2 linked regions of the Homo sapiens genome follow. The protein of the gene in region 1 purifies or fractionates together with the protein of each later gene. This does not show direct contact. Each region holds a gene or a part of one and is shown on either strand. Other genes may lie near its edges. The genes, in order: EIF2A and EIF2AK3.

Region 1 (17,734 bases):
AAATACATAAACCAGGAACAGTCATTTATAATTATCCAGTATTATGTACTGTACATAATTGTAAGTGCTAGACTTTTATAGGACTGGCAGCACAGGTTTGTTTACAAACAGCATCACTACAAACAAGTGAGTAATATGTTGTGCTAGGGCATTACAAGGCTATCATGCCACTGGGAGATAGGAATTTTTCGGCTCCATTATAAGCTTATGGGACCACTATCATATTTGCAGTTTGTCAGTGACAAAAACGTCTTTATGTGGCACATAACTGTAGCTGATTAGATCACTGGCTATCACACTTCAGGGCAAAGACTTTCTTCCCCCAGGTGCAGAGAACAAATGGTTGAAGCATTTCCTCTGGTTGCAGTCCTGCAAACTGCTTTCCAAAGACAGTACTGAGCCTCAGATGATGTAGACCTCCTCAAAGTCCTGAAGAGTAGAAAAATGCTCCTCCCCTACAGAATAATTTTTTTTGGAAATTGTGAGGCCCCTGTCATCCTACAACGACACTAACAGGACACTTGTCAGTCACAAGACCAACTGTGAGCAGGCAATCAGCCCTGCATTCCGGGCAAGGCTTTGGTGTAAGCAGCTCTTCACAACTGCCGCCGTGTCCACGCCTGCCACTTAACCTCATCGACTCTACAGGGCTAAGCTGTCCCTGAAGAGGTGTAATGTTATGGCTGGGCCTATGACTTACCACTGATCTGACGCAGGGGTTACAGACAGTCAGCAGGTCTATGACTATTAATGGATTGTATCTTTCCATAGAGAGCTGAAAAGCCAAGGATAAAATGCTCACCTTATAATTTACTTTTGGAAAACTCAACATCTTACCTTTTCACCTTTTTGGATTGCAACATAAACATCACAGAATTTCTGATATTAAATTTATTTTGGAATGTATGTGTATTATTTTTTACTTGGCAAGGGGTATAAATTCAGAAAATGTTCAATTTAGTTTTTTAAAAACTGGTTTAACAGTTTGTCTGAAGCAGATTAGTGGCCCATGATCTTCATTAATCTTTTGAGCAATAAATGTTTAAATTGTTCAATCTGTGTCAAAACCAATCTGGCCCATTGCTTTATTTCTTTTTTTAAACAAAGTTTAAGGCCAGGAGCAGTGGCTCATGCCTGTAATCCCAAAGCTTGGGAGGCCGAGGCAGGCGGATCACTTGAGGCCAGAAGTTGGAGACCAGCCTGGCCAACATGGTGAAATCCCGTCTCTACTACTAAAAATACAAAAATTAGCCAGGCGTGGTGGTGCATGCCCGTAATCTCAGCTACTCGGAGGCTGAGGCGCGAGAATTGCTTGAGCCCAGGAGGCAGAGGTTGCAGTGAGCTGAGATCGAGCCACTGCACTCCAGCCTGGGTAACAGAGCAAGACTCTGTCCCAAATTTAGATGTTAAAATGCCAATTGCGGAGTCACATCTGATTCACTTAACTTGATTATGCTTCCACTAAATAAAAACAACAGTCTCAGAGTAATAACAGTACCAAATGTGAAAATAAATTGAGTAAAAAAACCCCAAACATAGTGAAGGAGAAAATCAGCAAGTAAAATAAAGATGATGATGATAATAGTAACAACAAAAAGTATTTACATTTTGTTGTTGTTTTGGAGGCAGGGTCTTTCTCTGTCACCCAGGCTGGAGTGTAGTGGCATGATCATGGCTCTCTGCAGCCTCAATCTTCTGGGCTCAAGTGATCCTCCAGCCTCAGTCTTATAAAGTGCTGGGATTACAGGCATGAGCCTAAATTAGTGCCTGGCCTAAATTTTCTAATGTGACATGACTCAAGAATTCCACTTCTAGGAGTTTATATAGTGGAGAATACAAGAAGCAACATAATTATGTGGTTATTTCCATGTTATTTTGTATTCTTCTACAGAATACAAAGGAATTAGCAATATTTTTCTGTAAAATGCCAGAGAGTATATGTTTTAGGCATTGCAAAAACATGACCTGTTGGAAATACTCAACTCTGCAGTTGCAGCATGAAAGCAGCCATGGAAAATAAGTTAACGAGTGAGCATGGATGTGTTCAAAGAAAACTTTACTTATGGACAATAGATTTCACAGTTTTATACCATTTTCACATGTCATCAAATAATCTTTTGATTTTCCAACCATTTAAAAATGTAGGCTGGCTGCAGTGGCTCATGACTGTAATCCCAGCATCTTGGGAGGACGAGGTGGGCAGATTGTTTGAGCTGAGGAGTTTGAGACCAGTCTGGGCAACGTGGCAAAACGCCACTGTTTAAATGAGGGGAAGTCCAAATGTTAGATTCTGGACTTGGCTCTTCCTCTACTTAGCTGCCAACCATGATAAACACGTTAAACCTTAAAAAAAAAAAGCAAACCATTTTTCTATTTAGAGCATGTTAAATCTTACTTTTTCCCATAAAGTCTTCCTTGATTCATTAGTTGTCCTTTACTTTTTTTTTTTTTTTTTTTTTTTCTTGAGACGGAGTCTCGCTCTGTTGCCCAGGCTGGAGTGCAGTGGCACGATCTCGGCTCACTGCAAGCTCCGCCTCCCGGGTTCAGGCCATTCTCCTGCCTCAGCCTCCCGAGTAGCTGGGACTACAGGCACCCGCCACCACGCCCGGCTAATTTTTTGTATTTTTAGTAGAGACGGGGTTTCACTGTGTTAGCCAGGATGGTCTCGATCTCCTGACCTTGTGATCCGCCCGCCTCTGCCTCCCAAAGTGCTGGGATTATAGGCGTGAGCCACCACACCCGGCCTGTCCTTTTAAACAAACTGAAATTTATACAATCTATATTGGTCTGCTCAGGCTGCCGTAACAAAATACCAGACTAGGTGGTTTAAACAAAGAAGTTTATTTTCTCACAGTTCTGGAGGTTAGAAGTCTGAGATGAGGATATCACCAGCATGGTTAGGTTCTGGTGAGGACTCTCTGGCTTACAGCTGGCTGCTTTCTCACCATGTCTTCACATGGCCCAAAGAGACAGAACAAGCTCTCTGGTGTCTTTTCTTGTAAGGACAATAATCCCATCACGAAGTCCCCAACCTCTTCACCTCATTCAAACACACTTACCTTCCAAAAGGCCCATCTCCCAATACCACCACGTTGGAGGTTAGGGCTTCAACATACGAGTTTTAAGGTGGCACAGTCAGTCTATTAACTTCCTGTCCATATATTAGTTATGTATTAGGCATTATGTATTACCTAATACATAGCTAATCTGTATTAGTCAGGGTTTTCCAGAGAAACAAACACATACACACATCCTGAGAGAGATAAGAGAGAGAGACTCATATAGAAGGAGCTCCAAAATATTTTTTTTTGTGTGTGTGTGAGACGGTTTCACTCTTGTTGCCCAGGCTTGGAGTGCAATGGCACGATGTCGGCTCACTGCAACCTCTGTCTGCCGGGTTCAAACAATTTTCCTACCTCAGCCTCCCAAGTAGCTGGGATTACAGGTATGTGCTACCACGCCTGGATACTTTTGTATTTTTAGTAGAGATGGGGTTTCACCATGTTGATCAGGCTGGTCTTGAACTCCTGACCTCAGGTGATCCACCCACCTTGGCCTCCCAAGGTGCTGGGATTACAGGTGTGAGCCAGCATGCCTGGCCTCCAGAATATTTTAAGGGAGTACAGAACCACTATGGTGAGTATAAGCTGGGCATAGTGATGCAAGCCTGTAGTGTCAGATACTTGGAAGGAGGAGGTGAAGGATCACTTGAGTCCAGGAGTTCAAGGTGCACTCCAACCTGGGAGGCAGAGTGAGACCCTGTCAAACAAACACCACCACCAAAAAGCCCCAAACAGAACAGTTAGTATATGCCATCTTTTTTTTTTAAGTGTATGTGTATGTATATTTGAATACTCATATGGTATCTATCATTAGAAAGATACACAAAAAACTGGAAAATGTGGTAGTGGAACAGACTTAATTTTCATTGCATGCCTTTGTATTTTTTGAATTAGAAAAAAAAAAGTCCTGTGTGTATACTTTTTCTTTAAAAATTTTTAAAAAAGGATTTTGTTACTACATAGGATACTCTTACAAATTAAGAAGAAAGTCAAACATCCAAACAGAAAAATGGGCAAAGGAAAAGAAAAATCAATTCACTAAAGAAATACAACCAACTATCAAACGTGGAAAAGTACATAACCCATCTCTGATAAAAATACATGTATATAACAGTAACAAACAATCATTTCCTCTTTATCAAAGTGGCGAACATTTCAAAGCCTTATCACTTCTGATATTGCCAACAGTGTGGAAAACTTTAAATGGTGCAAGTATAAAGCTTGAGATAGGGCAATTTGGCAGTATCCATGAAAACTAAGCAGGGTGCTTAGTGTTACTAAATGATACATTACTTGAGGATACAGGAGTAGTATATATCATAGTGACCTAAAGCATAGGCTCTGGGATTAGATGGCCATTTCCTAGCTTTGAGACACTGACAAATTTCTTAAATTTATGGCCTTAGTTTTTTCATTTATAAAATAGAGATTAAAAGAATTACTTCATAGAGTCTTGTGAGAATTAAGTAGTTTTACACATCTTATAAATTAATAAAGGATATCTGAACTAAGGAACTTATAATAAAAACAGTGATTAAATTTAAAATGTCTTTGTTCATTTACATGGTATATATCACCCTCTACAAAAAAAAATGACACTTGTCTTTCAATCTGTCAAGCTTAGCTAAAAAATTCACGTATCTCTTTTCTATATCACATATTGACATGATATAGGATGCAAGATATAAATATCAATTTAATAGACATTATTAAATAATTTTACACTTAGTAGAATCTTGGATAAATGGTTAAAATTATAGATTGACATTAAGTGTGGGCACAGGAATATTCTGTGTATACCAATGGGTTTAACAGAAGATGTGTTTGCACTGATTTCTGGTCATCAACTTGCTTTCCGTGAATCTTTAAATACCCAATTCCAAATCTTCCAGCTCCTGGAGAAGGGCTGTTTCTTTCTGAATTTTCTCCAACTAGAAAAGTTTGAAACAATGAAGTTATTATGAAATAATTACTGGATATGTAACCAAAATAATACAGAAAAAATGGTATTTCTGACAATTTATTATGTTCACTAGTAAACACAGATTTTAAAATACAGGTTAGAAACAAATTCTAATTTGTTATCTGGTATGAATCGAGGGTGAAAAGAACAGACACTGTCTTACTGCATCCCTTTGGGCCCCAAAAATTTTCAATTCTATATTCGGGCTTAAACATGTTGACAGGAGGAGGGAAAAGGCAAACAGGGCAGTACAACTTGAGAGAATCTTATATTTGTCTAATATAACAAATTGCTATTATTTTCAGCAGTAATAACATAGTATGCCTCTTAGGAATATTGACTTTTTCATTCACATGATCAATACCATATCTCTTCTATTTAAGAGTAAAGCTATTTAAAAGTAAAAACATTAAAAAGAATATGGCATATGGTTTTCAAAATAAGTTTTTAAACTCCATGTGCTCTTTTACCTGACTAAATACTTGTTTATAATAAAAGGGGGAAGGCTGGTGGTCACCACAAGCCTAAATGAAAAATGCAGAAAGTACCTGATTTTTTTCTAGCTGTTTTCCAGTTGCTGCTTGTTCTTTCAGTTGTTCGATTGCTTTCAGTTTCTGCAAACATCAAATATGAGTCAAGAGCATGGAAGAAAAGTCACTTCAAATGCAAATTTCCTTATTAAGAATGTGAAACTCAAGTAAGGAGATTAATTATCTTAGATTTGTATCAACAATGGTCTGTTAAAATGCTAGGATAAATTGTTTTTTAAAGTTAAATGCAAAATTGTAAATGTTAAAAACATGAGATTTGGCAAAATATTATTCTCAGGCTTTTAATTAATGTTATCGTGTATGCATGTGTATATATAAATGTATCAGTAATGGCACATTTCAATGCCCCATTGGACCTGGGTGATGTTTCTGGCTTTGAGAGAAATCTCAATGAGAGCATTCTGAAAGATTGTTGGTCCAAAGTCCTGCCCGATAAAAAGTGAATGAAAGAGAAACCTCATAATGCAGCTGTGAAGGGCTCTAGAGACCTTTTTTTATCCCCAGGGCCACCCCAGCACACTGGCTGCAATATCACAAATCAATACACTTCTTTTTTGTCTCTGTCTCTTCATCTTCAAAACTAGGATAAATATCTGCCCCTAATTATCACAAGGTATCTAATGAAATACTGAGTATAAAAGTATTGAGTGACCAGGTGCAGTGGCTCACACCTGTAATCCCAGCACTTTGGGAGGCTGAGACAGGCAGATCATGAGGTCAGGAGATTGAAACCATCCTGGCTAACACGGTGAAACCCCGTCTCTACTAAAAATACAAAAAATTAGCCAGGTGTGGTGGCAGGCGCCTGTAGTCCCAGCTACTCGGGAGGCTGAGGCAGGAGAATGGCCTGAACCCGGGAGGCGGAGCTTGCAGTGAGCCGAGATCGCGCCACTGCATTCCAACCTGGTCGACAGAGCAAGACTCTGTCTCAAAAAAAAAAATTAAATTAAATTAAAAAGTGTTCAGTGGCCAGGCGAGGAGGCTCACAAATCCCAGCATTTTGGGAGGTCGAGGCGGGTGGATTACCTGAGGGCAGGAGTTTGAGACCAGCCTGGCCAACATGGTGAAACCCTGTCTCTACTAAAAATATAAAAATTAGCCAGGCGTGGTGGCGCACACCTGTAGTCCCAGCTACTCGGGAGGCTGAGGCAGGAGAATCGCTTGAACCTGGGAGGCGGAGGTTGCAGTGAGCCAAGGTTGTGGCACTGTACTCCGGCCTGGGCAACAGGGCAAGACTCCGTCTCAAAAAAAAAAAGTGTTCAGTATATTTCTATGCTGATGCACACTGAATTTTATTACTCCAAAAATCAAAGTACTAAGAGTCTTCAGACATTTATGAATAGAACTAAAATCAATACCATTCCTAAGTGAACAGTGCTTCATAGTGAGAAAACAACAATGAGAACTGCTGATACCAACTTCTTAGATACCTGTCTTTAGGCATCTAAGTACTCTCTTACTTATATAATTTTCATGTATACCTTTCAATATGCACATCTGTTTTTAAGTCTCTCACCTTCTTTAGGTTCTTGATTTTTTTGTCTATCTCAGGGTCCCCAGAAATTGACTGAGAGACAGTGTTTCGTGGTGTGCTCTGTGGGGCAGGAGTAGGTGCCAAATCTGGACTCTTGTCACTTCTTGCTTCCTGCAGGAAATATTTTTTTAAATTCAATTTTAAAAGCCAAAAACATTACAGTATTTAAATCAACATAGCTTTGGCATATGAAATACAGAAACTAAATATGTGATTTTATCTACATTTTATATAAAGAATCTGAATTAAAGGTCTCATGAAGTATGCTACATACTCCCATGTTAGAAATAAAATGACCTTATCAGAGTAAACCAGGAAGTTTCTGTACCAGCCAACAAGCATTCCAAACTTTTGCATATTCTGAGATGTGCCAGTAGATAGATGGTTTGAACATATGAGAGGGCTTTTCTATTTAAGGTGTTTAAAGTTTCACTCTTACAAGGCTCTCTCCAAAACTATAAAGAATATGTATGATCAAGTACCTGTAATGGATTATGCTACAAGAATAAGAATCCTACAGATATTAATTTATAATCAGATCAATTCAGCTCTGCAACAAAGTACCACAAAACTTTTTTCCCCTTAAAGGGATGCCATAATGCTTCCAATATGATCAGACCTCTGATAACTTTTCTTGTCCCTCCTCACTGATTCTGAATCACTTTTATTTCCGCTAAGGTGCTGTATACTCTTGCCCCTGGCCTTTGTGTACAGCAGTCTCCCTTAACCATGGTTTCAGTAACCAAGCGTCAACTGCAGCCCAAAAATATTACATGGAAAATCCCAGAAATAAACAATTCATAAGTTTTAAGCTGTGTGATGAAATCTCTCAGCATCCTGCCTAGAACGAGAATCATTCTTTTATCCAGTGTATCCACAGTGTATTCGCTCCCCACCTATTTTTCACTAGTAGCTGTGTTGGTTATCAGATCGACTGTCACAGTATCAACAGTAGTTGTGTTTAAGTAACCCTTATTTTACTTAATAATGGTCCCAAAGTGCAGAGTAGTGATGCTGGCAATTCGGATATGCCAAAGAGAAGCCGTAAAGTGCTCCCTTTAAGTGAAAAGGTGAAAGTTCTTAATAAGGAATAAAAAATATTGTATGCTGATTTGCTATGATTTACAGTAAGATTAAACCTATCCATGAACTTGGGAAGAAGAAAAAAGAGATTAGTGCTAGTTTTGCAGTTGCGCCTTGAACTGCAAGTTATAGCCGTGGTCATTCAACTTACCACACAAGCATTGTACCATCTCACATTGTCGCAAAAAGGGTGAATACAACACCATTAGATATTTTGAGAGACCATATTCACATATCTTTTATTACAGTATATTATTATAATTGCTCTATTTTCTTATGAGTTACTGTTAATCTCTTACTGTGTATCACAGTCTCTATAGGGTTCGGTACTATCTGTGGTTTCAGGCATAGCTCTGCCCCTCCAGGATAAAGGGAGACTACTATATATTGTTCCTTGTGCCTAGAACACCTTCCCCCACAAGTCACCTGGCTGAACCCTACTTATCCTTTAAGTCTTCTGGAAAATCTCCCCACCTTAAGACTGGATAGTCGCACCTTTCCCAGGCTCTCATAATGCCCAGTATTTTTCCCTACGGTAACACCATATTCTACCATTCCCCATTAGAACTGAGCCTCTAGCATAATACTTGCTTCGTTGCACAGGCTAAATAAATAAAAAATAAAGGAATGACTCTTCCTTTATAATTATGACAAGATATATATTTTGGTAAGAGGGGAAAAAATTATGTAAGTATTTATTGGCTCCAACGTAGGGTTTCTACTTCTTATAGAATTTCCAGTGGAATATATATATAATGCTCCAGGTCTCCATAACCTTTTACTCAGAGTTCTGGGTAGGATACTCTGAACTTTTAAAGCATCCTCAGATCCTCAGGGAACATAGAATAGGGTATCACTTCTAGATATTCAACTCTAAAAGTCTGCCTAAGAGTTTTTAGAAAATACAGAATTGAAGTCAATTTTTCTCTTTTTTTTTTTTTTTGGAGACAGAGTCTAGGCTGGAGTGCAGTGGCACGATTCCAGCTCATTGCAACCTCCACCTCCCGGGTTCAAGCGATTTTCCTGCCTCAGCCTCCCAAGTAGATGGGATTACAGTTACAGGCACCTGCTACCACACCCAGCTAATTTTGTATTTTTAGTAGAGATGGGGTTTCACCATGTTAGACAGGCTGATCTCGAACTCCAGACCTCAGGTGATCCACCCACCTCGGCCTCCCAAAGTGCTGGGATTACAGGTGTGAGCCACTGCATCCAGCCAATTTTTCTTTTTAAAGTCATGTTGGTTTCACTTTTTGGTACTATTTAATAAACAATTATTTACCTTCTACATGAAAACAAATTACTGGGCACTTTGAGAATTCGAAAGAAAATATTAAGTTTCTCCTCTTAAGGAGCCTGTAAGTTCTGGTAATAGGCAGTTTTATATTTTTCACAATATAAAATTAAAGTAGAAGAGTAAATAAAAGAAGAGGGGATATTCTGCCTATCAAAATTCACTTTTGATATCAGATTTTAAAAATATAAAATTTTAGTTGTTTGTAATGAGCTAAGAATATAGCTCTCTAGGAAGAAAGGTTAATCTTATCATGTGAAAAACCATTAAAATTAAGTGATATATAAAATTTATTTTTCCCCACAAACTAACCAAGAACAAGTTGAAATGTCTGCATTATTATACTTAAATTCTAGCCATTCTCTAGAAAGGACGTATATATGGTAAGATTAAATTCTTATGTTTCAACTCTTTTTTGGTAAAGTCAACAAACTTATAAAATTATCACCAGTTTACAAAAATACTAGTTAGATTACATATATCTGACTGCTCTATCTTTGACTATTTACTTCAGAGTCAGGACTAAGAAGGTCTGGATAAGGTGAGATTCTGTCAAGGGCCATTTAGCTTTGTTCCATCACACAGCCACAACTTTTACTAACTTCAGCCAGTCGTCCCCAAAATACATACTGAATAGTTTATCTTGCAAGTTGAAAACCTTTGCTATTACTGGAAAAACAACTCAAAAAGCAATTCCACAATGAGGGATTACTGGTATCACCTTTGGTATCATCTTTAGTAAAAAACGTGTGTAGGTGCTTGATGACTGTATTGGCTCTTTTAAAAAAAACTGACAGGTATAAACATATAACTGAGAGTTGTAAATTTATAACTGATCAGCCCAGCTGATCACACTATTACCATGAGCTATAAAGAGTTACACATTTATAACAGAGTTACAAATAACTATTATTTATAATAATAATTTCATTATATTAATTAAATGTGAAATTATCACATAATTTATATTATAAAATGTATAAACTAATAGAATTTGTATATTATTTATATAATTAATACAATTATAATTTAGTATATTAATTAATGGTTATAATTATTAATAATTATAATCATATGTAATTATGTAAGTAATTATTTATATAATAAGTATAAAGGAATCTTAGTCCAGTATCACCAATGGTCATATTAAAAATATCTTTTGATAAAGTGGAAGAAACTTTGCTTATAAAAATAGAATTCTAAGTTGAGTGCGTTTCAGAGAGGCCCTAAAACTCAAAGGGCATCTTAGTTATCAAGTTGTTAAGGATACTACTAATGAGTTGTAATATCCAGGGCCAGTAGAGGTCCCTACTTGTACTGATGAAGGGACAAGACTTGCTTTTATACAAATCTAATATCAAATGCATGGAATAGATCATTTTTACTTGGAATAACCTAAAGCTGACCAATTAAGATACTTCTGGGGATGAAACATATTAACTACAAATGAACAGAATGGTTTTTCTAAAAGTCCAGATTTTAGCAGAATATGGTTGCATAATACAATTCTATACCTTAAAATAGTAACTGCCTCCCAAAACACATAACCAGCCTAGACCTGTCAAAATTCAAGAATTATCAGCAAGACTATACTGATATAGCAACCAGCTGTTAAAAATCTGCCCTTTCTAGGATGGGCACAGTGGCTCACGCCTGTAATCCAAGCACTTTGGGAGGCTGAGGTGGAAAGACTGCTTGAGCTCAGGAGTTTGCGACTAGCCTGGGCAACATGGCAAAACTCGGTCTCAAAAAAAAAAACCAAGCCAAAACCAAACCAAAAAAACCTACTCCCATTTCCTGCTTGAAAAACATAGCGATAACCTATCTTTACAAAAATAAAAAAATTAGTTGGGAATGGTGGTGTACATGTACAGTCCTAGTTACTTGGGAAGCTGAGGCAGGATTAGTTGAGCTCAGGGTCTGGGGTTGCAGTGAGCCGTGATCATGCCTCTGCACTCCAGCCTAGATAACAGAGTGAGACAGAGTGTCTCAAAAGAAACAAAAACAAAACATCCAAAAACCCTACCCCACTGCTACAGTCTGACATATTGGTGTTTCCCTCAAATTCATAGTTTGGGACCTAATACCCAATGTAATAGTATTAAAAGGTGGGGCATTTGGAAAATGATTAAGTCATGAGGATTCCACACTCAAGAATGAGATTAGTAGCTTTATAAAAGAGACCAAAGAGAGCTCCACTGCCCCTTCCACCATGGGAGGACACACAGAAAGAAGGTGCCATCTATGATGAACGGGTTCTCACCAGATACCAAATCTGCCAGCGCCCCAGCTTCTAGAACTGTGAGCAATAAATTTGTTTATGAATTACCTAGTATAAGGTAGCAGCCTGAATGGATTGAGACATGTACTCTACCTGAATTGCAAAAATGTGATCACCATAACTTCACTAACCAGACATCCCCAGCCCAGCCAATCACATTATCACCATGAGCTATACAATATCACAATTTGTCAATTATTTACACTGGTGTGGCTTTTCAACTACGTAATCAAGTAAGAAACTATTTTGGAAATATCCCATTATTTGGGTACTTCTGGTATTTCGATTCCCAGTTAAATAATTTCATATAGTACTATAATACTGAGTGCCCAAATGGCTTTCTAGTCATGTAATTTCCAGCTTCTCTTAGTAAATACATGCTTCAAGGAAAGCAAACTACACCACTTCACACAAGTGCCACCAAAAGGGTCTACAGCAAGTAACATGCTTACATAATACCATTAGTGTCTCAGGTTATGATGTCAAGTCCAGTTTCTTTTGTCACCCATCATATAGACAGGATTACTTAGAAATTCATAGGCAAAGACAAAAGAAAGATATTCTGCCTATTTAAGTCTAACTCCAACTACATTTTATAACGTAAGAGCCAAGGTTTTTTGTGCTTTTTTTCTTTTTTTTTCGAGTCATGGTCTTGCTCTGTTACTCAGGCTGAAGTGGTACAATCACAGCTCACTGCAGCCTCAACCTCCCAAGCTCAAGTGATCCTACCATCTCAGCTTCCCAAGCAGCTGGGACTACGGGGTACACGCCATTGTGCCCAGCAAAAAATTTTTCATAGAGATGGGGGTCTCACTATGTTGCCCAGGCTGGTCTCGAACTGGGCTCAAGCAATTCTCCCACGTTGGCCTCCCAAAGTGCTGGGTTACAGGCATGAGCCACCACACCTGGTCACAGTCAAGTATTTAGGACCACAATTCTTTAAACTTTAAGGCTTAAAGCTAACTTAACTGCCTTTTTTTTTGGAGATGGAGTCTCTCTCTGTCGCACAGGCTGGAAGGCTAGAGTGCAGTGATGCGATCATGGCTCACTGCAACCTCCACCTCCCAGGTTCAAGTAATTCTCCTGCCTCAGCCTCCTGAGTAGCTGAGATTATAAGCCATGGCCAACTAATTTTTGAATTTTTAGTAGAGACAGGGTTTCACCACGTTGGCCAGTCTGGTCTTGAACTTCTAACCTCAAGTGATCCACTCGCCTCAGCCTCCCAAAGTGCTGGGATTACGGGCGTGAGCCACTGCGCCCGGCCATAACTGACTATTTGTTTTGTTATGAGATTAGTGCCCCAAATACCTGCTTTGCAGCTTTCTTAGCTTCATGCTTCCTTTGATTTTTAAGAGCTGTTTTTGATAATGGCTTATCGTTTCCTGATTGTGGTTTCATATTCTGAGGTGGTTCCTCTTCATGCTATGGAAAATGTAAAATAATTTTGAAATGGAGTCCATGTTGTAAACACCTACAACAACAAATTATACACTTCTGCTAATATAGGATAAACTTATTTTATCAAATTTAAGATCATTAGCAAAGATTATTTTGAAACTCATTGGTAGTGGCACACTCCAACTGTCAGGATGGATTTAATTAGGGTCTTCCTATTAGTTCCTATATCTTTCAATCATATCAGAGCTGGCAAAATTCACTTTAGTTTTGTTCAAACAGAATTTTTCTTAGCACTACTACAGACACATGATTCTTATGAAAACTAGATACCAACAACAGCTTCTTCTGAGGCCTTTTTGGTTCTAACTATTGTCAACAGAAACCCAGTTGCCTCGCTTGTTTTCTTCACACAAAGAATTACTTGCTAGATCTTTACTTGTAAAATCAGAAATTAGAAGATTAAAAATAAAAGCAAATGAAAAAACAAGAATAGATTATAAGAAAATAAATGAAATAGAAAGGAGTAATTAACTAGATAATTACAAATCTGGGATTGACATATGAAGAGACCAAAAAAAAATTACATGGCTTGTCAGATTACACAATGAAGACAATCATTTCCAACATCAGATATTCATGTAACCATGTAACAACTATATTCCACAATAGAAAAGATGGTGAATTATAGATTCAATGTATCTCCAGAACAGTTTTAGACAACATACAGTATAAGTGATGGCACTACAACTCTCTATCAGATTCAGGTACTTACTGATTTCTATCTATATTGCTATTATTTTAATGTTAACTGTCTCTTAGACTGTACCATAACTCAGCACATCAAAAGTACCAGCTCTCCATGAAGTTTCTTGAGTACTAGGTCTCAGATCCGCATTTTACTTATAAGTTCTATATGGAAATGAGCAGAGCTCAAACACTTAAGATGCAGAGTAATAAATAAGAAACCATAAAGTGACCTTATCTTAGCAAATGCATTAACTATTTCAGGTCATCAAAGTTCTGGGTATGTTCATATTCTACTTGAAACAAACTGAATATTATGAGAACCCACATTTGTAGAACAGCAGACAAATTTGGAGTGCAAGGCTCTTTCATTTCATTTTTATCCATGTTGCATAAAATGCTACTTAAGTTATACAATATTTGCTGAACATTTGTTTTATACATAATATGAAAATTCTTTCAATAGTGGGCTCTTCTGTAGTAGTTTACTTTGGCCGAAAAGTTTCTGCTCAGAACTTTGATGAAAAATGATACAAGAAGAAAAGATAAGTTACAAGTCTCTTCCACGCTTATGAGCATCATGTAGCCACTGAGAGCCTTTCACTTGAGACGAAAAAAATCCACACAACTACTATAAATCATGAGTTTTTTCTGGTTTTGGTACTATGTGCTCATTACGCATAATTTCATTCTCATTAATAAACTTTGTTTATTCAGTTATATCAATTATTATGGGACTGTTTTTGATGAACACATTTTAATTTCTCAGCTCACTGCAACCTCCTCCTTCTGGGCTCAAGTGAATTTCCCACCTCAACACTCCCGAGTTGCTGGGATCACAGGCAGACACCACCATGCCCAACTATTTGTTTTGCATTTTTAGTAGTGATGGGGTCTCACCATGTTGCCCTGGCTGGTCTCAAACTCCTGAGCTCAGGCGATCCACCCGCCTCGGTCTCCCAAAGTGCTGAGATTACAGATCGAAACCCCCACACCGGACCAACGAACGCATTTTAAAAGGTGAAGGTTTTTTTGGAAAGCTAATAAATATTCTTTAAGTATAATTTATATATAAATTTTTACTTATAAAAAACTTTTTTCTGTGAGGGACGAACCCCAACACCTTTTTTCCCCTACTGCTGTGTAACTCTCCTCCTTTGTGAAGTTATCTACTACACTGTCTTTGTTTCTAGTAATTTCTTGACAGTATTTTCTTTGTAATTTAGCTCATTTCTGGAATTAGATACACGTAAACATTTCTAATTACTGGGCATATAGCTACTTCAACTAAAATGATTTGACAGGACCACACAATCATCACGCCACATAAAAAAGCAACAATTTAGTAGAAATCTTAAATGTTAACAAAAAAATCCTGGCCGGGTACAGTGGCTCATGCCTGTAATTCCAGCACTTTGGGAGGCCAAGGCGGGTGGATCACCTAAGGTCGGGAGTTCCAGACCAGCCTGGCCAACAGGGCAAAACCCCATCTCTACTAAAAATAAAAAAATTAGCTGGACGTGGTGGCAGGCACTGTAATCCCAGCTACTCAAAAGGCTGAGGCAGGAGAATTGCTTGAACCCGGGAGGTGGAGGTTGCAGTGAGCAGAGATCGCGCCACTGCACTCCAGCCTCGATGACAGAGTGAGACTCTGTCTCAAAAAAATCCTGATTTTAAGTTCTTACCTAATTTCATCACCATTTTCAAAGTATTATTTTCTGTATCAATTTCTCCCCCTCACCAAAATAAACCTACTACTTTTATGGATCAAAGAATTGTGCCATCATGCACAGATTCAGAAAGCAGGATGGGTTGGAGTTACTTTTGTTTTTATCTGAGGTAAGGAAAATTCCAATACAGAAATAGGAAAAATCTGAAGTCTACTATATACTTTCTTTTTAAATCTAAATAAATATGATAAATACAAATAAATATCATGTTATGTCTTTATATAATTTTACATAAATAAAACAATACTGGTTAAATAGAACATTTCGATGGAAATTAAGAAGTTTCAGACCAGTCATACGTTTTGTTTAGTCCAAGAGAAAGGTTGTTTTTTTTTTTTTTTTTGAGACGGAGTCTCACTCTGTTGCTCAGGCTGGAGTGCAGTGGTGCGATCTCGGCTCACTGCAACCTCCACCTCCCGGGTTCAAGTGAGTCTCCTGCCTCAGCTTCCCGAGTAGCCGGGACTACGGGCATGCGCCACCATGCCCAGCTAATTTTTGTTATTTTTAGTAGGGACGGGGTTTCAGCATGTTAGCCAGTCTGGTCTCAAACTCCTGACCTCAAGTGATCCTCCCGCCTCGGCCTCCCGAAGTGCTGGGATTACGGATGTGAACCACCACTCCTGGCCCAAAATAAACTTTTTTCTATAAAAGTAGTAAAACTTTACTTACCAATTTGGAATTGGTGATTGGTTTATTTCTTAAAGCTGGGGGTCTATAAGCTGTTGCAACTTTAGGTTCCTCATTGGGTACTTCACTTGGAACTGCTTGGTAAGTTATTGTTTTTGCTGGAAATATTCCATCCAAAAATGGCTGCCAAGAAACCTGCCATAATTCTGCATTTGATGGCACATCATACTTGTGCAAGATAGAGCCAGTATAATGCCAAATTTTGTATCCATTATTAACCCGTAACCTGGGAGCACATGTAGCTGTTAAAATATGCTCACCATCCGGGCACCAAGCAAAATATGTAGAATCAGAAGCCACCGGTTTAGAAATAAGTTTGTAGTTTTTCACATCCCACACTTCCATTTGTCCCCTCAGATTTCCAAATCCAGCTAATACTAATATATGTCCATGAGGGCTATAGTAGGCTGCATTACGAGGACCAGTTCCAAAGTCAAATACAGGATCACATTTCAAGTTGAAAATTGTCGCTTTGGCAGGCATAAAACCATATACAGCACAAAACTCAGTAGAACTAGAATTCCAAACTACATCATAAATGGGGCCATTTTTTGCTAGAAAAAGAATATAAAGCCCAAATTAGCAATAAAGAACTATATAAATATTTGTTAGCAAAAGTTACCATCATATAGTACTCACAAACACATCAAACAGATAAAAAAATTTCAAGGAATGTTAACATTAAAATACTCTTACATTATATACTAGGGGGATTAATGTATAATCATAAATTTATTTAAGAACCCCTATTGAATCTTAATTTCTTTTAAACATTTTGGTAATATGGCCTTATAGTAATAGTTTGTTACTATTAATAAATTTGTTTTTGGAAGGGGTAATACGTGCAGATGGTAATCAAAATACAAACTAATTTATTTATTTATTTGTTTATTTATTTATTTATAGAAATGGGATCTTACTTTGTGGCCCAGGCTGGAGTGCAGTGGCATGATCACAGCTTACTGCTGCCTCGACTTCCTGGGCTAAAGGGATCCTCCTGCCTTGGCATTCCAAAGTGCTAGGATTATAGGCATGAGCCACTGGGCCCTATATTTTTAAAAATGCCACATAAGACCAGGTGCGATGGCTCACGCCTGTAATCCCAGGACTTTGGGAGGCCAAGGTGGGCAGATCACCTGAGGTCAGGAGTTTGAGACCAGCCTGGCCAACATGATGAAACCCCACCTCTACTAAAACTAGAAAAATTAGTTGGGCACAGTGGCATGCACCTGTAATCCCAGCTACTCAGGAGGCTGAGGCAGGAGAAGCGCTTGAACCTGGGAGGCAGAGGTTGCAGTGAGCCAAGATCGTGCCACTGCACTCCAGCCTCGGTGACAAAGCGAGACTCCATCTCAAAAAAAAAGCCACAAACACAGGTCATTTTACACAAAGGCAACCCTCTGTTAT
Region 2 (7,000 bases), on another chromosome or scaffold:
TATCACCTAACATACCATATAATTTACTTATTTATTAAGTTGTTTGTCTCGTGACACCAGAGTTTAACCTTCACAAAGGCAGTGATTTGTTTGCTTTGCTCGCTAATCTATCCCAACCATCAGAATGTGCCAGGCCATAGGTAAGCCCTTAATAAGCATTGTTAAAAGAAGGGAGGGCAACCGAGAACACAAAACCAGTAAGCTTACTTACTAGGCTTCTATCTCATTGCAGATTTGAGAAAGCAAATGAAAGAAGGGATGGGACACTACTTGAATCAGTATCTCTAAACCTGTGTTCCTTGGAGCTGAGTCTATGACAGTAATTGGCCTTGATAAAAATAGCCCTAGAAAATACTGCATATATTATCTATTTACACATTAAATATTCATATTACACATATTACACATAATCATGTTACACATTAACATACTAATTGCTATAAGAGCTCCTATAGTAACCTCTTCTTGAACTCACTTGATCATAAAACTCTCTTTTGGTAACTCACCTACCATTATGGGACCCTTTTGGCCCATGGTAAACTGAGTTTGAGAAAAATCTTACTAGAGTACTATGTGTAGGGCCTGGGAGTGATTGGCAGTTCTTTTAAATTACTTTTGGTTGATGGACTGCACTGCTTCATGTGCTACTCAGAAGGAGGCTGGAGTACATCAGGATCAAGACTCCAGCTCTTAATTACTATTATTCTTTTAAAGGTATGATGCTTCTATTTTTCTGGGAGAAATAAGAAAAAAATAATAATTAATGTTATGGCCCTTTTAAAAAGTTAGCTTCTGTTTTAGGTATTTGGGAATAAGATGATCATTCCTTCCCTGGATGGAGCCCTCTTCCAGTGGGACCAAGACCGTGAAAGCATGGAAACAGTTCCTTTCACAGTTGAATCACTTCTTGAATCTTCTTATAAATTTGGAGATGATGTTGTTTTGGTTGGAGGAAAATCTCTGACTACATATGGACTCAGTGCATATAGTGGAAAGGTAAGTGAAAATGCTGAATTTACTTTGGGGAAATCAGAGTAAATTAGGGTAGAAAAAGTAATTTATTAAACTACACTTATTATTAGTTGAGTTTTATTGTAATTTTCCCCTGAGGTTGTCATTTGTTTTAATAAGAGAACTGTGAGGTAGGAAGGGGAAACTAATAACAGAATAAATGGCAGAGCCAGGAATAGCAGGAGGAAGAGAATTCATAAATATGGTCTACTGTGTCTCAGGTGTTTTTTTTTTTTTTTTTTTTTTTGAGACAGAGTCTCACTCTGTTGCCCAGGCTGATCTCAGCTCATGGCAATCCCCACCCCCACCCCATTCCACACCCCCTCAGGTTCAAGTGGGTTCAAGCGATTCTTGTGCCTCAGCCTCCTGAGTAGCTAGGATTACAGGCACATGCCACCATGCTTGGCTAATTTTTGTATTCTTAGTAGAGACAGGGTTTTACTGTATTGCCAGGCTGGTCTCCAGCTTCTGGCCTTAAGGGATCTGCCCACTTCAGCCTCCCAAAGTGCTGGGATTATAAGCAGGAGCCACCATGCCCAGCCTCAGGTTCTTTTTTTTATACATTATTTTGCAATCTTCACAGTCTTCCTAAGTGTAACTTTCGTTTTTTTTTTTTTTTTTTTACATTTTGACAGATGAAGAACCTTATAAAGATTAATAGTAATCCTAATGATAAGAATAATTGATACTACTCATTTATAGGGTTTGATCCTATAATAAGGTGATCCAAGAGGAAAGTTTATACTCATTTTACAGATGAAGAAACTGAGACTTTAAAAGGTTCAGAAACTTCCAGGGTCACATTTAACTTAGATCTATCTGACAACAAAGTCATGCTGTTAATAATCTAGACTTTCTCCAACATTAGCTCTTAGGATATAATCATAATATAATCTGCTTCTAAGATTGGGTCTTATAAATCCATTATCAAGAGTAGCTAATTAAAAGCATCCTTTCAACCAGGCAAGGTGGCTCACACTTGTAATCCTACCACTTTGGGAGGCCAAGGTGGGTGGATCACTTGAGGCCAGGAGTTCGAGACCAGCCTGGCCAACATGGTGAAACCCCATCTCTGCTAAAAATAAAAAAATTAGCTGGGGATGGTGGCGCACGCACGCCTGTAGTCCCAGCTAGTCAGGAGGCTGAGGTACGAGAATCACTTGAACCTGGGAGGTGGAGGTTGCAGTGAGCTGAGATCACACCATTGTGACGTGTAAACGGTTTATATACAGACTTGGACTAAAATAAGGAAGAATAGAAACGTGGTCTTTTTACTCTTGCATTTTTCAACTTTAACAATTCCTTATCTAAGTGTTAGGCCCATAGCACTTTCTTGCTCTTGCAGATGCTTTTCTGCCTTCTCCACCCACCTGCATCTGCATTGTGTTGAGGAGGCCATGCCATCCTATCTGGCCGTTTTTTGAGCAAAGCACTTCAATCTCTGTTTACTTCGGTAGTCTCATCTGTAAACAACAGGATTGAACCCGATCACCTGGTTTTCCGATTTGATGTGCTGCTACATAATTCTGGTATTGTAGAAGGTATGCTTTTCGTGAGGATTTTAGTTTGGATCATATTAACTCTTCCTTTTTTCTTTAGTGAAAATTTGAGGCAGTTACTTTTGAATACAAAAAGCTCTCAGAAAAGTTTCAAATTTTTAAAAACCAAACACTTTTGTTATACAGAAACTCTAAGGTTGATTTTTTTTTTAACTCACCTGAAATTTTATTAATGATATTGTAGAAAAGCTATCACAAGTAGCTATCCATTTCTTCTTGTATATTCTATGGAAATCTCCAAAGTAAGGCTAAAATTATGTAAATCCTTAAAATCATTCCCTGAAATAAATATTCATTGGTACTGTCATTGTTCTAAATAACTCATTTTAGGAGTTGGTAATCTAACTGATGCTTCTTATGACTTGAGTACTTCATACACATTTCCTTAGTTTCCTTTCACTTTTTAAAAATTACAGATTCCTTTAATATCTCTGATCTATTATGAGTTGTCTCCTTTTACTAATTTTGTATCTAATTTTGTCTTTTCAGGTGAGGTATATCTGTTCAGCTCTGGGTTGTCGCCAATGGGATAGTGACGAAATGGAACAAGAGGAAGACATCCTGCTTCTACAGCGTACCCAAAAAACTGTTAGAGCTGTCGGACCTCGCAGTGGCAATGAGAAGTGTGTATTCAGATAATGTTGCTGTTGGTATTATTTAGAAATACACCTAATACCAAAATTTATCAGATTTCTGTTTGTGGAGATTTTGACTATTTTGTTGCCTTAAAAGCATATATATATATATTTTTTTGATACGGAGTCTTGCTCTGTCGCCCAGGCTTGAGTACAGTGGCGTGATATTGGCTCACTGCAACCTCCACCTCCTGGGTTCAAGCGAATCTCCTGCCTCTGCCTCCCGAGTACCGGGGATTACAGGCACGTGCCACCACACCCAACTAATTTTTGTATTTTTAGTAGAGACGGGGTTTCACCATGTTGGCCAGGCTGGTGTCCAACTCCCGACGTCAGGTGATCCAATGTGGGTCCTAAAATAAAAATGGTTTCATGGTTATTAACAAATTCTGAACTGAACTTCTCACCATATGCTTCGGGATATGATAACCACAGGGGTTCTCATATGATAACTATTAGTTTAGTCTCAGGTTAATGATTTTTTTTTTTTTTTTTTGAGACCGAGTTTCACTCTTGTTGCCCAGGCTGGAGTGCAATGGCATGATCTTAGCTCACCACAACAGCTGCCTCCCGGGTTCAAGCAATTCTCCTGCCTCAGCCTCCTGAGTAGCTGGGATGACAGGCATGCGCCACCATGCCCGGCTAATTTTGTATTTTTAGTAGAGATGGGGTTTCTCCACGTTGGTTAGGCTAGTCTCAAACTCCCAACCTCAGGTGATCCACCCACCTCAGACTCCCAAAGTGCTAGGATTACAGGCATGAGCCACGGTGCCTGGCCTAATGATATTTTTTATAGCAATCTCATCATTCAAAGTTCTTTGAATACAGAAAGATGTTAAGACAAAATTGATGTGTTTCTTTGAGCTTGAACTTATTTGACTCTCTAATTATGTCTAGTAGGTAGTTTCATAGTTTGATTATCTCAATTTTAAAATAATAATCATCTTATTCAATTTTCTTGAAGTATTAAAACATTTATTTAGCCTAATACCTTTCTGTTTCCTTCTTTAAATAATGAACCCCTTATGTAATTTTTATATTTAAATATGTGATTAAAAAATGTGATACCTAGATTAGATACGCTGATTCTACATCAAATGCTTGATTTTTTTTAAACCTAATATTTAAGTTTTAAATTGCCTTTGTAGTAAAAATAACTTTAGATTCCATCTTTATCTTTTGAAAATGAACCAGACTTTCGGGTTTTGTCTGATCCGATGCAGTGTAATTCAGTTTCCTTTCCTGAAAACTGTTTTCTCAAACTCAGTTAAGAATGCATTTATTCTTTCTACTTTGGACTATGAATAGGGCTTTGCATTTACAGACAACTTGACCTTCTTTATCCTGACTGGATTTTGTTTTTTTAAGTGTTTGAGTGCTTACTGGGAGCTCAGCCACCATAGCAGCAGATGTCCAACTTAACAGATTTTTGAGTTACCAGAATAGGAAGGATCTGGGTTTCTAAGATCCATGATTCTTTAAAATATAATTATTTCCATAAATGTCAGAATTCTTAACTATGCCATTTTATATCTAAGTGAAAAGACACAATACTCTCAGTAGTTGAGTGATTTTTCTATTTACTAATTATAGAGGAAACATTATTACTGCCACTTTAGGATAAGACTGCTGAAACTTACTTAGGAAAGGGTAAATGACTTGCCACATCTTGTTCAGTGGAGATCCAAGATTGGGGCTGAGGTATCCTGGATCACATTGCCTTTTTGAGGCCATGTTTTAGTATGAATTTAAGACTGGTGCATTCATCTTGACTTTTACACTGGTTTGTTAGGGCATATTAATTTTGCTGCACTTAATGAAATGTATCCTGCCTTTAATTAAGAGGTAAGGCAGACTGTGTGCTACCTCATTTTAAGGTGACATTGATGTGTTTGGGGAAAATCACTCTGATGTAGAAGTACAAACATTTGTAAGTTTTTGAGAGAAAATCTGTCCCTTAGCTGTTGTAAGGGACACATCAAGTCAGTCCACAACCCTCAAAACCATTGTGTCTGAAGGGTCAGGACAAAGTTCTTGTGGGCCCTCTTGTGGCATAAATCAGTAGAGCACTCTTTTCCAGAAGGTTATGTTGTTAGTTTTCTCATCACATAATTTTAGTATTTGCTTCTTCAATCTAGAAGAGTTCTATATTATTTTGTCCCTTTCTTTAAATGTAAATTTCTAAAACACACCTTTGTAAATTTAAGGTGGAATTTCAGTGTTGGCCACTTTGAACTTCGGTATATTCCAGACATGGAAACGAGAGCCGGATTTATTGAAAGCACCTTTAAGCCCAATGAGAACACAGAAGAGTCTAAAATTATTTCAGATGTGGAAGAACAGGAAGCTGCCATAATGGACATAGTGATAAAGGTTTCGGTTGCTGACTGGAAAGTTATGGCATTCAGTAAGAAGGGAGGACATCTGGAATGGGAGTACCAGGTACCTAACACCACTGAGGATTTAAAATACGGTTCTTCCTCTCCCAGTCTGACCAAACTTATTGATTGGGTGGAACGAAATTACTACTACTTGGGGCTCTCAGCTTGTTCTCTGTGCTTTTATAAATTTGTGATTTTAAATGGTATTTTATGGGTTGGAACTATATAACTACTGCTTGAATTATTTAAGACCTTTTTTCCATTTTTGTTTAGTTTTGTACTCCAATTGCATCTGCCTGGTTACTTAAGGATGGGAAAGTCATTCCCATCAGTCTTTTTGATGATACAAGTTATACATCTAATGATGATGTTTTAGAAGATGAAGAAGACATTGTAGAAGCTGCCAGAGGAGCCACAGAAAACAGTGTTTACTTGGGTGAGTAAATGTATCTTATCTAACGATAGTACACATTGACATCTAGATTTTCTTCTTACATTGTTCCTTCCTACTTCAGGAGTGCCTGTAGTAGTTTTAAATCCTAATATCATCTCTGATGTACGTTGCCCTTGAGATTTATACTTCGATTTCCATTCCTGCTACTTTTCCATTTGTCCAATTCTGAAAATTTTTTTGTTGTTGTTGGAGATGGAGTTTCACTCTTGTCGCCCAGGCTAGAGTGTGATGGCATGATCTCTGCTCACTGCAACCTCCGCCTCCTGGGTTCAAGCGATTCTCCTGCCTCAGCCTCCTAAGTAGCTGGGATTACTGGCACCTGCCACCATGCCCAGCTAATTTTTGTATTTTTAGTAGAGATGGGATTTCACCACATTGGCCAGAATATAGTGCACCTGACCTCAGGTGATCCACCCACCTCGGCCTCCCAAAGTGCTGGGATTACAGGCATGAGCCACCACGCCCAGCCCAATTCTGAAATTTTTAATTACTGTCGCATATTCTTTTTCTCTGAGGTCTATATTAGAAAGGCTTAGAAATATTCTCATTATATAACATGATTTCAAATTACTCATTAGCCAAGAATGGTGGCACGCACCTGTAATCCTAGCTACTCCAGAGGCTGAGATGGGAGGATCGCTTGACCCCAGGAGTTAGAGCCTACCCCAAACTATAATCATGTCACTGCACTCCTGCCTGGGTGACAGGACAACACTCTGTCTGTTTATATATATATAATTATTTATAAGTAATTACATATATGTATTACATATATAATTATTTATATGTAATTACATATAAAATATATAGTTAGGTATATATCCTCAAAGTCTATAATTTTCTGTATTTGTATTTGCATCCATATTAGTTTGTGACCCTCCCCTCTTTAAGATTAGATTTCTTTCTTTTTTATCAGTGCATCTGTACAACTGATCTAAAAAATAAAACTCTGGTGTGCTT

Evidence for each region.
Region 2: the proteins of EIF2A (region 1) and EIF2AK3 purify together in Homo sapiens (affinity purification with western blotting; 2 studies listed by BioGRID and IntAct, with this or other methods). This does not show direct contact.

Annotation. Positions count from the first base shown.
Region 1 is NC_000003.12:150,571,105-150,588,838, reverse strand, and holds the end of EIF2A (eukaryotic translation initiation factor 2A), read right to left. Parts: intron 16,882-17,734; coding exon 16,310-16,881; intron 13,191-16,309; coding exon 13,077-13,190; intron 7,222-13,076; coding exon 7,093-7,221; intron 5,640-7,092; coding exon 5,574-5,639; intron 4,994-5,573; coding exon 4,928-4,993; 3' UTR 2,823-4,927; downstream 1-2,822. UniProt on the Homo sapiens protein: Functions in the early steps of protein synthesis of a small number of specific mRNAs. Acts by directing the binding of methionyl-tRNAi to 40S ribosomal subunits.
Region 2 is NC_000002.12:88,589,465-88,596,464, reverse strand, and holds part of EIF2AK3 (eukaryotic translation initiation factor 2-alpha kinase 3 isoform 1 precursor), read left to right. Parts: intron 1-801; coding exon 802-996; intron 997-2,406; exon of another isoform or gene 2,407-2,552; intron 2,553-3,059; coding exon 3,060-3,193; intron 3,194-5,412; coding exon 5,413-5,647; intron 5,648-5,859; coding exon 5,860-6,022; intron 6,023-7,000. UniProt on the Homo sapiens protein: Metabolic-stress sensing protein kinase that phosphorylates the alpha subunit of eukaryotic translation initiation factor 2 (EIF2S1/eIF-2-alpha) in response to various stress, such as unfolded protein response (UPR).